Regions from separate parts of the Homo sapiens genome. Here region 1 is linked to region 2. The links come from fine-mapping of genetic effects on gene expression. A gene starts in region 2. The other region holds a variant in brackets. All regions are shown on one strand. Distances are from middle to middle. Region 1 has its middle 93 kb from the start of MED15. Region 2 holds the start of SCARF2 (scavenger receptor class F member 2).

What was found. PIP is the estimated chance that this variant, and not a neighbour inherited with it, causes the effect.
Region 1: its variant is fine-mapped to the expression of SCARF2 in monocytes (TOPMed, PIP above 0.99).

Annotation. Positions count from the first base shown.
Region 1 is chr22:20,596,110-20,604,429 of GRCh38, reverse strand. It overlaps the pseudogene CCDC74BP1. Among named protein-coding and RNA genes, the nearest start is that of MED15, 93 kb to the right of the region's middle. RefSeq lists a silencer at 3,753-3,943. The variant A/G (reference allele first, on the strand shown) is at 3,195.
Region 2 is chr22:20,433,181-20,441,500 of GRCh38, reverse strand. It overlaps SCARF2 (scavenger receptor class F member 2), which reads left to right and starts at 3,676. Exons shown (of 11, transcript NM_182895.5): 1 at 3,676-3,919. The coding sequence starts at 3,747. It overlaps LOC107985588 (a long non-coding RNA gene), which reads right to left and starts at 3,505. Exons shown (of 2, transcript XR_001755623.2): 1 at 2,990-3,505.

The sequences.
Region 1 (8,320 bases), 160 kb before region 2:
AGACACCAACGGCTCCTATTCAGCCATGACCTGGGCGAGATGGGGCAGGACAGCGTCCAGAAGATGGACGAGTGCCTGGAGGAGGCCCTGGCGTACCTGCGCCAGATATTCCGAGTATGAGCAATGGGGCCTGTTCCACGGCCGTTAGGGTCCCCTTCCCCGAAGGATCCACTCCCCCTTTGCCCATGGTCAGCATGCATCCGTCCCAGGCCCCATGCAGATGAACCCGGTGTTGTGGGAGGCAGGCCCACACCCCGAGTGTCATGTCCGGGTGCTCTCGTTGCCACTGTTAGAGGCTGGTGGGGTGAAGACTGGTGTTCCTTTGCCTTGACACTGAGGGCAGAGGAGCTTCTCTCTCTCTGGTAGCTCAGTGAAGTGCAGCTCACGCAGAGTCTCTCACACTTGCCTTGGACACCATCCAGGATGAGAATGGAAAGAAGCAGCTCCGGACTGCATCGCGGGTGAGGACAGACTCATCCCCACGCCCCTGGGCCAGTACCAGGTGAGAGGCCCAAGTCCCAGAGGTGCATGGGTTGGGCCCTGACGTGTCCCCAGCTCCCTCCTCCCCTGTGAGCAGAGATGGCTTGGCTCTTCTGAGTTGTGTGCAGGGGCCATGTTTCCTTTTCTCTTCTTTCTTTTTTTTGAAACAAGGTTTCCCTCTCTTGCCCAGGCTGGAGTGCAGTGGCATGATCTTGGCTCACTGAAACTTCCACCTCCTGGGTTCAAGCGATTCTCCCACCTCAGCCTCCTGAATAGCTGGGATTACAGGCACATGCCACCATGCCTGGCTAACTTTTTTTTTTTTTTGAGACGGAGTCTTGCTCTGTAGCCCAGGCTGGAGTGCAGTGGCGCAATCTCGGCTCACTGCAAGCTCCACCTCCTGGGTTCACGCTATTCTCCTGCCTCAGCCTCCTGAGTAGCTGGAACTACAGGTGCCCGCCACCAAGCCCAGCTAATTTTTTTTTGTATTTTTTTTAGTAGAGACGGGGTTTCGCAGTGTTAGCCAGGATGGTCCTGATCTCCCGACCTCGTGATCCACCTGCCTCAGCCTCCCAGAGTGCTGGGATTACAGGTGTGAGCCACTGCACCTGGCCAATTTTTGTATTTTTAATAGAGACGGGGTTTCATCATATCGATCAGGCTGGTCTCTAACTCCCGACCTTGTGATCCGCCCGCCTCGGCCTCCCGGAGTGCTGGGATTACAGGCATGAGCCACTGCACCTGGCCAGGGCCATGTTTTCTGGCCCAACCCTATAGCCTGGGTTTCTAGATCATCAACAGGCTGCAAAGGTTTGAAATTGAGTACCAGGGGGACCCGGAGCTGCAGCCCCTCTGGAGTTATGAGATTACCAGCTTGGTCTGAGCATCCTTCCGGCTGTCATCTGCCATCAAACACAGAGTGAGTGGGCAGGAGGGCTGGCCTGGCCTCTTCAGAGAGGGTTCTGGGTGCTCCTGCCTGGGGTGCAGTCTCAGGGTGGCCTGTGGGGGTGGGGTGCAGCTGTCCTGAGGCCTGTGGTGCCACCACCCCATGCCCCCGTGCCACTGCCTGCGCTTCAGTTTGCAGACCAGATGGCGGCTCTGTGTTCCTGAGATGACTTCCTTGCCAGCTTCTGTTGCTACCACCTCACAGAGCCCACGCTGGCCAGCGGCCACAGGCTCAACCTGCACTTCCTAGGCAGCTACCTGACACTGCCCTGGCTACTGCTGGCTTTCTTCATGGCCTCTCTGTTCTGCATCAGGCCCCTCACCTGTGCACTGCTGTTCACCCTGGGCTACGCCCTCTACTCCTTGGCCATGATGTTGCTGACCAGGTGGGGAAGCTGCACCAGCCCTGATGGCATTGGAGGTGGGAGGCCACTCCAGGTGGGAACATGGTTATCTTTGGGCTCCTGGTGGGGGCAGGGGGGTTCCTGCAGTCGTGGATGCATCTAGGGGAAATGGGACTAAAAAGGGAAGAAGGTAGCTTCAATAAAATCTAGTGCTTAAAGACACAGCAACTGTTCGATGATATTGAAGTATTCAAAATATATGACAACTACAGATTCACTGACAGAAACCACCACGGGGTATCTCACACCTTCATTCACCCCACAGATGACACACCAGGGAGAACAGCGTCTCGGTGGTGATTTTTTTTTTTTTTTTTTTGAGACAGAGTCTTGCTCTGTAGCCCAGGCTGCAGTGCGGCGGTGCGATCATGGCTCACTGCAACCTCCGCCTCCCAGGTTCAAGTGATTCTCCTGCCTCAGCCTCCCGAATAGCTGGGATTACAGGCATGCGCCACCATGCCCAGCTAATTTTTGTATTTTTAGTAGAGATGGGGTTTCACCATGTTAGTCAGGCTGGTTTCAAATTCCTGACCTCATGTTAGCCACCCACCTCAGCCTCCCAAAGTGCTGGGCTTACAGGTGTGAGCCAGCGCGCCCGGCCAGTGCTTTGTATTTTTATGTAAACTCAGAATACAGGTATTTTAGGGCCTGTGACCAAAAACCAAACCAAGCTTGTAACTCCACCAGGGATCTGAATAAACCTGCCCTTGCTTTTGAGTTTTCCGCCGCCTAGGCTCAGTATCCAGGCGGTTCACCCATACAGGGTCCCTGACCACGTGGGGGCTGTGGAAACAACTGCTGGGCACCCTGTTGGCCCCTCACCCCAGTGTCCACGGGCCTGGCCCTCTGGTTTCCTTTGCTTTCCTTGCCCAGGGGCACAGTAGACTCGGCAGCAGCAAAACCAAGGCGCATATTAACACTGAAGTGCCTGAGACAGAAAGGGGCTGGGCCGGAGCCATGTGAATTTTGCCTTCTACTCAATATCAACGTTGAGTAGATTGGCCTGTAATCCCAGAAGTTTGAGAAACCAAGGCAGGGAGGATCACTTGAGTCCAGGAGTTTAAGCCCAGCCTGGGCAACACAGCAAGACCCCATCCCTACAAAAGATTCAAAAAGTTGGCTGGGCGCGTGGCCCACGCCTGTAATCCCAGCACTTTGGGAGGTCAAGACAGGCAGATCACCTGAGGTCAGGAGTTCAAGATCAGCCTGGCCAACATGGTGAAACTTTGTCTCTACTAAAGACATAAAAATTAGCTAGGTGTGGTGCCACCTACCTGTAATCCCAGCTACTCGGGAGAGGCAGGAGAATCACTTGAACCTGGGAGCTGGAGGTTGCAGTAAGCCAAGATTGTGCCACTGCACTCC[A/G]GCCTGGGTGACAGAGTGAGACTCCGTCTCAAAAAAAAAAAAAAAAAAGATTCAAAAAGCTAGGTGTGGTGGCTCACACATGTGGTCTCAGCTACTTGACAGGCTGAGGTGGGAGGATCACCCGGGCTCAGAAGGTCAAGGCTGCAGTGAATGATCACGTCACCGCACTCCAGCCTGGGCGACAGAGCGAGACTCTGTCTCCAAAAAAAAACAAGCTGACGACCTGAAACATATGCCACCATGTCTGTGGCTTCCAGAAGCTCTGAGGATCTCGGGAGTGGCTGGGGACTGTGCACTCAGCCCCAGGGCAGCGTCTGGCCAGGAATGGAGGCAGACACAACCTACTGAGTAGAGAACTAAGAACAGCAAAGCCAAGTGAGGAGGCAGGGTCTTGGTGGTTGGGGCCTGGACACTGGAGAGAAAAGGGGACTACTGGCACGAGAGCAGAAGCAAAATGCAGTTGGGGGTTCCCAGCCAGGAGGCACTGGGGGGGACTTCCAGGGAAGGTCTGGGGTTGGAGCAACCCAGGAACCAGTTCTGGGGCACAAGGAGGAGGAAGCTCTGGGGACTTCTAGGAGGGAGGCTGGTGGCCGGGGTCCTGAGGAGGCCAGGCTAGAGGCAGGAGTTCTTGCACATTCTCGTCTCTCCACCCCGGACGCCTCCAGAGTGGTTTACTCTAACCGCCACCACCTCCTCAACTCCTAGGATGCCCTCAACTTTTTGCCACTGGACCACACTTCCCTGCTGTGAACAGGCCAAATCTAGATGCTTCTCAGACCTCATGGCCTGGAGCCTCTGGCAGCACAGCTTCAGGCTCTCCAGACACCACCCCTGCTCCCTGCACCTCCACATCCCCCTCCTTGCACCAGGCAACGCTATTCCCCTGGAACCCATTTGTGGCCCACTCTCTTCCATGACCAACACATCCTATCTCTAGGATGTACCAGCACCCACATGATCCCAGGTGACTCAGATTCTGATCGCCTCATGCAGGCGACCCACAAGCAGAGGCCCTGTGTAATCAGGAGAACTCTATACCTTTCCTCTTGGACATCAAAGAGCAAGTTAGATCCCCTAAATGGCCAATAACTCTGACATTTCCAACATAGAGAGGACTCTTTGTATTTTTTTGAGACGAGGTCTTGCCATGTTGCCCAGGCTGGAGTGCAATGCACCATCATGGCTCGCTGCAACCTCCAAATCCTGGGCTCAAGCAATCCTCCCACATCAGCATCCCACCCAAGTAGCCAGGACTACAGGCACGCACCACCACACCCTGCTAATTTTTAAATTTTTTTGTAGAGATAGGGGTCTCACTACATTGCCAGGCTGGTCTTGAACTCCTGGGCTCAAGTGATTTGCCCGAAGCGCTGGGTTTATAGGTGTGAGCCACCACACTGGAGAGAGGACTCTTATGTAGCCTTCACTTTAAAAATTAAGCTAGCTTCCCTTGACTCTCAAAACCAGAATTCTTAGCAGAATTTTCCCAAGTGAGAAGGGGCCGAAATATATAAAATTATTTCCCAATCAAGAATTTCTACTTTTGGCCAGGCACAGTGGCTCACGCCTGTAATCCCAGCACTTTGGGAAGCCGAGGCAGGTGGATCGCCTGAGCTCAGGAGTTTGAGACCAGCCTGAGCAACATGGTGAAACCCCATCTCTACTAAAAATATAAAAAATTAGCCAGGCCATCATGGAGGCTCACACCTGTGGTCCCAGCTACTCAGAAGGCTGAGGTGGGAGGATCGCTTGAGCTTGGGAGAAAAAAAAAAAAAAAAGAATTCCTACTTTCTCCCAACGAGTATTCCAGCTATGAAAATCACCATTGACTTTAATATCCATGTGAATCTTTGTACGCCCTTAAGAGATCAGAAGAATGCAAAGAAGTGAGAAGAGGAGGAGGAGCAAATGCTTTCCAGCCACAGCAGGAGGCTGGCACTTTGGAGGGTGGAGGCCTTTTGACACCCAGCTCAGCCCAGGGGAGCACAGGGTCAAGCCGAGGGTCAGTCACCAGGCAACTTCTCTCTCCACTGTTGGGTCTTCCTGGCTTCAGCGCCTCTGCAGCCTCCTCCCTCCAGCTGCCTCCAGCTGTGCTGACCTCTGGGAGAGCAGCCAGGGAGCACCTGGCTGCATGTGCTGTCTCGGACTTCCCAAGGAGTGCTCAGAGCACTTTTTTCTCAAGATGCTCAGGGGAAAAGCTACTCGGGCCTTCTAGAGAACCAGACTTTGTCCTCTTAAGATTCAAAATGGTAAACCGGGCGCGGTAGCTCATGCCTGTAATCCCAGCACTTTGGGAGGCCGAGGCGGGTGGATCATCTGAGGTCGGGAGTTCGTGATCAGCTTGACCAACATGGGGAAACCCCATCTCTACTAAAAATACAAAATTAGCCAGGCATGGTGGCGCATGCCTGTAATCCCAGCTACTCAGGAAGGCTGAGGCAGGAGAATCGCTTGAACCCAGGAGGCGGACGGAGGTTGCGGTGAGCCGAGATCGCACCACTGTACTCCCGCCTGGGCAACAAGAGCAAAACACAGTCTCAAAAAAAAAAAAAGAAAAAAAAAAGATTCACAATGGAGACCGGGCCTGGCGGTTCACGCCTATCCTAGCATTTTGGGTGGGAGACCAAGATGGGAGGACTGCTTGAACCCAGGAGTTCAAGACCAGCCTTGGCAACATAGCAAGATCCTGTCTCTGTTAAACAAAACAAAACAAAACAAAAAACAGCCTAGGCAACATGGGGAGACCCTGTCTCTACAAACAATAAAAAATAAAACATTAGCGGCCGGGTGCGGTGGCTCACATCTGTAATCCCAGCACTTTGGGAGGCTGAGGCAGGTGGATCATGAGGTCAGGAGATCAAGACTATCCTGGGTAGCATGGTGAAAACCTGTATCTATTAAAAATACAAAAAATTAGCTGGGCGTAGTGGTGCATGCCTGTAATCTGAGCTACTCAGGAGGCTGAGGCAGCAGAATTGCTTGAACCCAGGAGGCGGAGGTTGCGGTGAGCCGAGATGGTGCCACTGCACTCCAGCCTGGGCAACAAGAGTGAAACTCAGTCTCAAAAAAAAAAAAAAAAGATTCACAGTGGAGACCGGGCCTGGTGGTTCATGCCTGTAATCCTAGCACTTTGGAAAACCAAGATGGGAGGACTGCTTGAGCCCAGGAGTTCAAGACCAGCCTGGGCAACATAGCAAGACCCTGTCTCTGTTTAAAAAAAAAAACAAAACAGCCTAGGCAACATAGGGAGACCCCCTCTCTACAAACAATAAAAAATAAAAAATTAGCGGCTGGGCACAGTGGCTCACGCCTGTAATCCCAGCACTTTGGGAGGCCAAGGCGGGCGGATCATGAGGTCAGATCGAGACCATCCTGGCTAACACAGTGAAATCCCGTCTCTACTAAAAATACAAAAAATTAGCTGGGCGTGGTGGTGGGCGCCTGTGGTCCCAGCTGCTCTGGAGGCTGAGGCAGGAGAATGGCGTGAACCCAGGAGGCGGAGCTTGCAGCGAGGCGAGATCATGCCACTGCACTACAGCCTGGGCCACAGAGCGAGACTCCGTCTCAAAAAAAAAAAAAAAAAAAAAAAAAGCCAGGGCTGGGCATGGTGTCTCATGCCTGTAATCCTAGCACTTTGTGAGGTCAAGGTGGGTGGGTCACTTGACATCAGGGGTTCGAGACCAGCCTGGCCAACATGGTGAAAGCCCATCTCTACTAAAAATACAAAAATTAGCCAGGCATGTTGGTGCATGCCTCTAATCCCAGCCACTCGGGAGGCTGAGGCAGGAGAATCACTTGAACCTGGGAGGCAGAGGTTACAGTGAGCCGAGATCATGCCACTGCTCTCCAGTCTGGGTGACAGAGTGAGACTCCTTCTAAAAAATAAATTAAAAATGAAAGTGATAAATTGGCAGCTGGCATCAGGGAGAGGCCAGTTCCTGATGGGTCACACCTGTTTCATTAAAGTGTTAATTGAATGCAGGCACCAGGGAGAAGCAATTTCCCCGGCCATGTGCATTAAGAGACAATGGCAGAGTATGACCTTCTGGGACGGAAGAAATCTTCAGATGGGCATGCGTACAGTTTCCTAAACACACTGCGTGTGCTCATCTCCCAAGGGTAAGGAGGACACTGTGCATGTAGGCAGCCCACCCTAGGGGAAGAATCTTGGGAAAGGGGTCAGTCTATAAAGTCCTAGAATCAAGGTTAAACACCGCACTTGACCTTTATGTGCCTGTTTAGGTCTCTTCCAAGAATACTTTCTTTCCTGTTGTAAAGCTTTTTTAAATAAACTTTCACTCCTCCTCCAAAACTTGCCTCGGTCTCTTTTTCTGCCTTATGCCCCTCAGTTGAATTCTTTTTTTTTTTGAGACGGAGTCTTGCTCTGTCGCCCAGGCTGGAGTGCAGTGGCGCGATCTCGGCTCACTGCAAGCTCCGCCTCCTGGGTTCCTGCCATTCTCCTGCCTCAGTCTCTCATGTAGCTGGGACAACAGGCACCCACCACCATGCCCGGCTAATTTTTGTATTTTTAGTAAAGACGAGGTTTCACCGTGTTAGCCAGGATGGTCTCGATCTCCTGACCTCGTGGTCTGCCCGCCTTGGCCTCCCAAAGTGCTGGGATTACAGGCGTGAGCCACCATGCCCGGCCAGTTGAATTCTTTTTTCTGAGGAGGCAAGAATTGAGGTTGCTGCAGACCCATACGGATTCGCTGCCACTAACTCAGACACCTTCCACTGCTAACACTGACTTTGTTATTGTGTTTATTTGGAGGTTAAGTATGGTTTAAGGAGATGTGTGTAGGTACCAGGTTGACAAGGGGTGGACTTGTGATGGTTAATTCTATATGTCAACTTGTCTGGGCCACTGGATGCACACATATCTGGTTACACATTATTTCTGGGCATGTGTGTGAGGGTGTTTTCAGAAGTAATTAGCATTTAAATTGGTGGTGCAAGCAGCCATGCCTATACTTCTGGGGTAGCTTCCCTATAGCTTGCAGGAGCCACAGCAGGCAATAAGAGCCCCATCCTCCAAATACTGGGGATCTGTGTTCCGATTGATGATGGCTGCTTCAGATTGTGGAAGTGCAGACGAAGAGGCAGGCAGCCACTCTTGCCATCTCCAC
Region 2 (8,320 bases):
CAGTTCCTTTCCACAGTGCACCCAAGCTGCGTCCCCAGGAAGCGTGGCTTCTGGGGTCAGAGCTGCCATCTGGGAGAGGCTGTGGAAGCCCAGGCCAGAAGCCAAGTGGCACTGGGAAGACCCTGCCTGAGAGGGAAGCACAGTAAACTCCACAAGCTAACAGGGCACTCAGTGGGAAAGCTGGAACTCGCCCTGGTCTGGTGACAGGTGGTTGTGCAGCCACTTGAGTGTCTTCTCTGGTGTGGAACTTGTCTCCCAACCAGGGCAGCACGCAGAGTTTCAGCCCAGCTCGTTAGGAGTCTCTCAGCCTGAGGGTCAGGGAACCAGAGCTTCAGCACCTGGGAGCGGGGCAGCATCAGGGGGTCGGTGGGGGGGGCCCCTCTGGCCTGTGCCCGGCTCCTCCCAACCTCCTGAAGCTGAGTGTGCTGGGGAGGGGAGCTGCATGTGCTACAGGTTTGCCAGGTAACCCTTAGGCACCCAGTCTCAAGGACCACACTGGCACAGCAGCTGGGACCCTCCCCTGTTCACCTGTCCCCATGCTTTTCTTGCCCTCTTGAGACTGCCAGGCTTAGCCTGCACCCTGCATGGATGGGCTGTGAGCCCACACCAGCCTCACTGCAGGGCTGCACCACACGAAGCTTTCTTCCATCCTGATGCCCTCATAGGGTCTGCACCTGCAGACTCCTACTATGAGCCTTGTGCCCAGAGCCATCCCGCAGACAGGGCTGTAACTTGCCAAGGCCCCATCCTTTCCCAGTTGACTGGGCAGAGCATGGGGACAGCCATGTGTTCCTGCTGGCATCCTGTCCCGGAAGAGAAGGGGGCAGTGTGTGCTCCTTGATGGGAGGAGAGGGGATGGGGACGGGGGACTATCAGTCACTCTGGGCTCTCCTAAATGGATACCCCAAGGATTCTTGAGGGTAGAGACAAAGCCCTCAGAGTTGGCCTGTGCCCCCAGGGCTGTGGTATGTGGGTGTGTGTGTAACCTGAAGACCTTCCTCACTGTCCTGGGCCCTGAGTACCCCTGAGGAAACATGACATTGCCTTGGGGTGGCAGACCCAGTGTTGAGCCCTAGTGGGGCGGGATGGCTATACACTCCAGTGTCATCTCCCTTTCTCCTGAGGGTGAGGCGCAAGAGCATGGGTTCAGAGTAGGAACCCCACTCTGTGGGTCTCAGACCCAGCACTTCCTGTGTCTCTGCTACCACCTGGCAGGCCAGGGCAATAGCTCCTGCAGACCTCAGAGGTTTCTGGAAAGGAGGAGCACCAGACATGCCCCACCACTCTCCAGTGCGTCCTGACAACATGCTGGCTGGCAACATCTCACCTGAGCCACCAGCCACAGCCACAGGTTTGCAGGAGGCCTCTGGTCTGCAGGGGCAGGAAGGGCTCACTGAGGTCCTGCACAGCCTGGGGAGGGGTGGAGAGTGCCTTGGAGTTGGGCGCAGCCTGGCCCTGCCACTGTCAGCCTTGGGGCTAAGCTGGGTTTCTAAGGGTTACACCTGATACCCCGGAGCTGAGGCAGCCCAACTTGTGCTCTCCAGTGTGGCTAGGCTCTTGGTCCCTGCTTTCATGCAAAACCCTCCTCAGCCTTCAAAGTCCACTTCCTTCTGGCAGCCATCCTGGCCAAAACCAGCAGGCCAGGGCTCCGGGCTCCAGCAGTTTGCCTGCGTGGTGGTCAATTGTCTGTGGGTTCCTTCTACATCCTAGTGCCATGTGGATGATCCTTCATTCCTCCCATACTTCTCAGTCTTCCCCTAGGGGTGCAGTGGTGGTTGGGAGAAATGAGGGCTCTGCCCATGACACCCAAAGTTGCCATCTACTGCAAGGGATGTATGTACCGGGTCGTGAGGTGAGACTGGGGATGGTCCTCATCCTGAGAGCAGTGGTGGATAGCCACATGTGAGATTAAAAAGACTACTCTGGGTGGCAGACAGGGGTGGGCAGAGATCTAAGACATTTAGGAGGTCCTGGGGGATTGGGGGGCACCATCCAGGTGGTGCCCTCCCTGGACAGGTCTGGGGGAAGGAGAAAGGTGATGGAATTTGATATGCCTATTCATGACCTCCATCCAGCTGAGGTGAGTGTCCCCTCCAGCCCAGGGGGTCAGTGCCTCTAAAGCCAGGAGCTGGGCTGGGACAGACCTTGCAGCCACTGGGACCTCTGCTGGCCTCTATTGGGAGCCGCAATCCGGATCCTCCGTGGGAGGGGCCCCAGCACTGGGAGGGCATTGCTGAGGTCAGGGCTGTGCCCAGGCTGAGCTGCCCAGAAGTGGTTGGCCTGTTTATTTGTCCCCAGGTAGTTGCATTCGTGTCCACACTAGTTCCACTTCTCTTTCAGCCCACCCCACCTCCCTCCTGCACCAGCATGGCTGAGTGAGGGGCCTGCTCCTCCCCATCCCACTCTCTGCCTGTGCCAGCCTGGTGATGCCCATGGCCTTGGGCCTTTCAGTGGCTCCTCCTCCAAGCCCCCTCCTCCAGCCCCACCCTTCGGGGCTATCTGGCCACACCTGGACAGAGTCTGCCTGCCCTCCCTCAGTGAGCCTGTGGGCCGCATGTGGCCTGCTCCCCAAAGAACGGAGGTGCCCGCTCCCTGCTTAGGCCTTCTGCCAGCTCTCAAGTCCCCAAAAGACAAACATCCTCACTAGGACCTGGCTACACACGGGACATTTGTGCTCCCTGCCCAACTTCCAGAGTCGGTCTGCCCCAGTTGCCCCCCGGGGACCCGCACCCTGCTGCCTCCCAGTCCAAGTCCAGCTTCCCCGCTGGCTCCCTAGGGCCTGTCCCTCTGTCTTGCTCCCTTCCCACACCTTCCTTCTGCTCTGTGCTGTTACCCACCTTACCTGATGCAGGAGTTCCCACTCTCTAGCCCCAGCCTCTCCTGGAAATCCGACAGCCAGCAGAATCCACCGCCCAGGCTCCCCCAGCCCCCTTCACTCCTCAACTAGGACTGCAGGGTTTCCATCCCGGGGGTCTCCTTCTGTCTTTACCTCTACTTCCTACCGCAGTCCACAGCCTGGCCATTCTACTTCCTCTGTATCTCTCCCATCCGTCCCTACGGAGACCCCTTCCCCCAGGCCTCTGGTCCGGACCGAGTCTACCACAGGCCTCAAGCATCCTGCTCGGTCCGCCCCTTGCGAGCTCTGAGTGCGCAGGAGTGCGCAGGGGGAGCTGACCGCACACCCCAGCACTACAAGGACTTCGCGGTGGGGTGCTGTGGAGTTGGCTTTCGGCCTCGACCTGGGCTGTCTGCGGGCCCCACTCCCTTGGCCGGTTCCGAGGCGCTGGGAGCGGGGGTGGGCTTGCGGAGTCGCGTCCGTGTCCCCGATCCGCCTTCCCGTCCCGGGCCTGGCCTACGCAGTGGGCGCGCAGGGGCGGCTGCTTCGGTAGATGTCTAGGGAGCGGAGGGAAAGGCGCGGGAACCGGGGATTCCTCGGGCGGACCCTCCCTCCACCAGCGCTCGGCGGGCCTCCTCCAAGTTCGCCCCCAAGTTTGCGAGCGGCCAAATGGGGGCGGGGGCTGCGCGGAGGGGCGGTGGCTAGGCCGGAGGGTGGGGTCTGGAGCGCGGGGCGGGCGCTGCCGCCTGGCCGGCCGCGGCTGGCCCGGGATCAGGGAGCCGATGTGGAATTTCCTGCCCGGCTCGGCGCCCCTCCTGCCGCCCCCCGCCCGGCCTCGCACTCCGCTTCCGGCCGCTCTCGCTGCGGCCGCACCCGCGCCCGTGCCCGCCCCGCGCCTGCCCCGCGCCTCATGGAGGGCGCAGGGCCCCGGGGGGCCGGGCCGGCGCGGCGCCGGGGAGCCGGGGGGCCGCCGTCACCGCTGCTGCCGTCGCTGCTGCTGCTGCTGCTGCTCTGGATGCTGCCGGACACCGTGGCGCCTCAGGAACTGAACCCTCGCGGCCGCAACGTGTGCCGTGCTCCCGGGTAGGAGCCGGCCTGGCTGGGGGAGGGGGCGAGAGGGACGCTCTGGGCAGTGGTGTGGCGGCGCCGGGCATTGGGAGGGGGCTACCGGAACCTTCCTACGCCAAGTGTGGGCCCCTTCGGCTCCCTAGCCAGCGCGGCTCCGTTCCAGGCCCAGCCTCGGCCATGGGCCACGACAGTGCATCCCAGGGAACCCTGGACGAGAAGTCACCTGAGGGGAGGATGGAGTGCCGTGGGCACCCAGGGGATGACACGCGTTGTCCGGGATATCAGGAAAGACCTGGAAAAAGGGACCCTTGACCGAGTTGTGAAGTCCACGGGGAAAAGCTGGGGAAGGGCATTCAAGCCAAAGGAACTGCATGTGCTAAAGCCCCGCACTAGTCCGACTGGAGCCGGGAGTGGGAGTGAGGAGGAAGGTCAGGGGAGGAGGAGCGGTGCTAGCCGGGGAGGTCCTGGAGCAAGCCAGACTTGGAAAGACAGATTCGCGTCTTAGAGCGGGCGCGGGTGGGAGGGTGGTGACCCAGGCGAGCGTCGAGGAGCCGGCGCTCGAAGTGGACCAGAAGCGGGAGGCGGAAGGACTATGACAGGCACAGGGGACCGGAGGATGTGGGAACCCTGGCGACAACCAGGTGGGGATTCTGGGTGCAAGAAGGGGCCGCGCAAATGTGGGGCGCCGGCTGGGGAAGCCAGTGTGGGACAGGCAGGCGACAGGCCCGGCCGGTGGGGGGGCGAGTCCGGGAGTTTGCACGGAGGGCAGAGAGGTGAGCCCCGGACGCCAGGAGTTAGGAGCTGGGGTCGGGGGAGCCGGTGGGCTGGCCAAAGGCCACAAGGTCAAGGGCATCTCCACGCAGGGGTGAGGAGCGGGCGTGTGGGGGCGCCTTGGCGCGGATTGGAGACGCCGCACGGGCTGGCAGCCGCAGAGGCGGCCGCCGGGCTCCGAGCTGGGTCGCGTCGGGGCGCCTGAGCCACGGACCCGGGGCAAGCCGAGTCCAGGGGCTCGGCGCCAGAGACAAGGGGCTGCGAGGGGGCAGCGCGGGGTTTCCGAACTCTGGTCCGGAGGCGCGCAGACCCCTCCCCGCTGCGAGCCCCGCCTCCGGGGCGGGGGCCGGCCTGGCCCGCCATCTGCTTCGCATCGATGCCGCCGCCGCGGACTCCCGGGCCTCCCCGGCCCCAGGAATGCAGCGGCGGCGGCGGGCGGGGCGGTGCCTGGAGAGGGGGAGGGCGCGATCGCCGTGGTCTCTGTCTACTCACTCCAGCCCTCTTTCCCAGACAGGCCCGGGACCAGGAATGGGGGTCCGGTGCCAGGCTCTAGCTGTCCGGAGCCTGAGAGCCCTTTGCTCCCGCTCCCCTGGTCTGCAGACCTCCCAGGAGGCGCCTGCTCCAGGAACCGAGCCTGGGTTTGGGTTCCCATCCTGGTGCCACCCTACCCAGCTGTGTGGACCTGGGCAAGTCATTTGACCTCTCTGGGCCTGTCTCCACCTCTGTAAAATGGGATAGTGATCACAACCCCCTCATGGGGCTAAGTGGAGATCGCTGTGGTCATGAGTGGCAAGGGTCGATGGGAAGGACAGCCACTCTGGGCACTGCCCACCTGGGGTCTGGGTCATGTCTTTGTTGTCCTCCCACATCTTGCAAGGCTTCCATCAGCCCTTCCCTTTCCTGGGAGGCAGGAGGATGGGGAGAGGAGAGTGCAAAGCCAGTAAAATCCTATGCACCTACACTGTGCCAGGCCTGTATTGGTGTAGGGAAGCTGCAGTGGAGACCCTGACCCTGTGGCAGAGGAGACACAGTCCAGAAAAGCAAGTGTGTCTAGACATCTAGCAAGAGCTGGGAGGTGTTGGGTTGGGGAGTGCTGTTTCCTTTAGGGTGTTCTGAGGAGAACGGCTGAGAAGGTGGTGAGTGAGCACAGGCCTGCAGAAGAGCACGGAGGCCCTGTGGGTGTCTGGGGCAAGGTTCCCAAGGCAGAGGGCCTGTGGAAGTACAGGAAGGATCCAGGAGGCTGGGCAGAGTCCAGGAGGGGCTGGCGGAGGAGCTGCCAGAGAGTGAGGGTGGGCAGGCCACCGTGGGCTGCCACTGCTCAGAAGACTTGGGCTTTTCTTCTGAGGGCCATGGGACCCCCTGGGGGCTTTGTACAGAGAAAGGGTGGGATCTGACCAGGATTGGCTGCCAGGTGGCAAACACTTCGCACCCTGGGGGGCAGGGGGTGGAAGCTGGGGCCAGTTACAAAAAGCCAGGGAGATGGAGGGTGGCTCTCACAAGGCTGGGATAGGGAAGGAGGAAGTGATCCCATTTTAGATATCGTTTAGAAGCTAGAGCTCAGCGTCTTTTTTCTCAATGGATCTGGTGTAGACAAGAAAGAAGAGTCAGAGATGCTTCTCCAGGTCTCAGCTTCCCAGCCTGAAAGGACAGGCAGGGTTATCTGAGGCAGGGAAGACTCAGGGTGCAAGGAGGTCAAGAGTTCAGGTTTGGGCTGGTTGGGCATGAGGCCCATGAGGTCTCCTTCTGGTGACATCATCTATTGGGCAGTTGGATTTGCAAGTCTAGCATTGATGGGGAGAGCCCTGCTGGAGGGTCCAAGGTGTTGTCAGTGTTCAGTGAGCTTCCCGAGGGAGCTAGTGTGGACACAAGAGAGATCTGAGGATGGGGACAGAAACCAGAGGAGAGGTGTCCAGGCGGGGCAGCAGGAGGGTCGGGCTGGTGTGGGGTCTGAAGGGTGTGGCAGGCAGAGAAGCTTTTCTGCCTGGATTTGGGGGAGAACATGGACAGGTATGGACCCCATGAGCCAACTTGAAGATGTAAGAACTCACAGTGGGTTTGAATCACAGAACTAATGCTCTACGAGGGAGAAGCCTACGGCATGTCTTGCTTGCTGAGGGGCCTGGGCCCAGCCTATGGCCTGGCTTCTGAGGGTCTTGCCGACTTACAGGGCAAGCGTGGGAGCAGCCCTGCAGCAGGCCATCTTTCCCCACCCGTCTTTGTAAGATCTTCAGAGAGTGGGCTTGCCACCACCACCCGGCCTTTTCTGCCAGCCCTTCCAAGAAGGAAAGCATCTTGTTCTCAGTGAACCCAAATGGACTCTGTCCTGCTGGTGGGCATTAGCTCTGCTGGGGTTAGGCCTGGGTGCCCGCTAAACCAGAGATGACCGAGTGCACTCAGAGGCACTGCAGCCTGTGCTCAGGATCCTTTGTGCTTAGTATGTGCCAAACCACTTCATAGGTCTTGGCGCGCGCTCTCTTTCTCTCTGTCGTCTTTCTCTGTCTCTCTCTCTCTCCTATCTCTATCTCTCTTTTTGAGACAGGGTTTCACTCTGTTGCCCAGGCTGGAGAGCAGTGGTGCCATCACAGCTCACTGCAGCCTCAAACTCCTTGGGCTCAAGCAATCCTCTTGCCTCAGCTTCCTGAGTAGCTGGGATTATAGGTACATGCCAGCACGCCCGGCAAAAAAACATCTTGGCTCTCTTAATCTTTCTACAGTAGAGCCCTACTATATAGCTAAGGAGCCTGAAGCTCAAAGAGCTTAAGCTGCATGCCTGAGGTCACACAGCAAGTGGCAAACCCAGACATCAAACCCAGCTGAGTGTGGCCCTAAAACGAGGGTCCTAGCCACAGAGCCTTATGTCCAGGGCAGAAGGGGGTTAGTGCTTCCGGGGCAATTCCAGCAGGCCACCTGGCAAAGCTCCCCACAGGAGGGACACCTGCAGAGGCTCTCCATCCAGTGAACATGGTTCAGAAGCAGACACAAGTGGGTGGGTGATGGCCAGCAGACCTGGGTCTCCCTGCAGATGGGCACCTTGGTGCCCCCTGGGTCAGGGCTGGGTGGGTGGAGACAGTGGGGGCAGGGGCCAGGAAAAGCCAGGCCTTTGTATTCCTGTCTCTGGTTTCCAGTTTTATTGTGGAAAATACACTGGACCAATTCCCCAAAGTTTGAGATTTTATGGTCCTGTTCGCCAGGTCCCATCTTTGGCCTGAAGGAGAACCAAGCCTTGTTCAGGAGGAGGGGCCTCGAGGCCTAGGTGCTCTGTACAAGGGGTGGTATTCTGTCTAGCTGGGGAATGGCTGGGGCATCCTCGGAAGCCTGGGCAGGAGCATGCCAGGCATGTACTATCCTGAAATGCATGGTGTAGGGCCAGTCTATCCCATCCCGCTAGGGTCTTCAGGCTTCCTCCCAAACTCCGCCCCCCACCACCTTCCGGTTCTAGATTCAGATACTGAATCCAAGCCTGCTTGTGAAGAAGCGTGCTCCTTTTCTCTAAAGTGCGAATGGCTGTTACATGCCTTTAGGATCGAGGCGAAGTTCTGGGTCGGCTGGGAACCTAGGATCCCGCAGCCTTGGTGGCTCTTCCTTCTCAGCCTCCTCTGCCCCTGAATGTGGGCTAACCCCAGCTCATCCCCTACGAACCCTCTC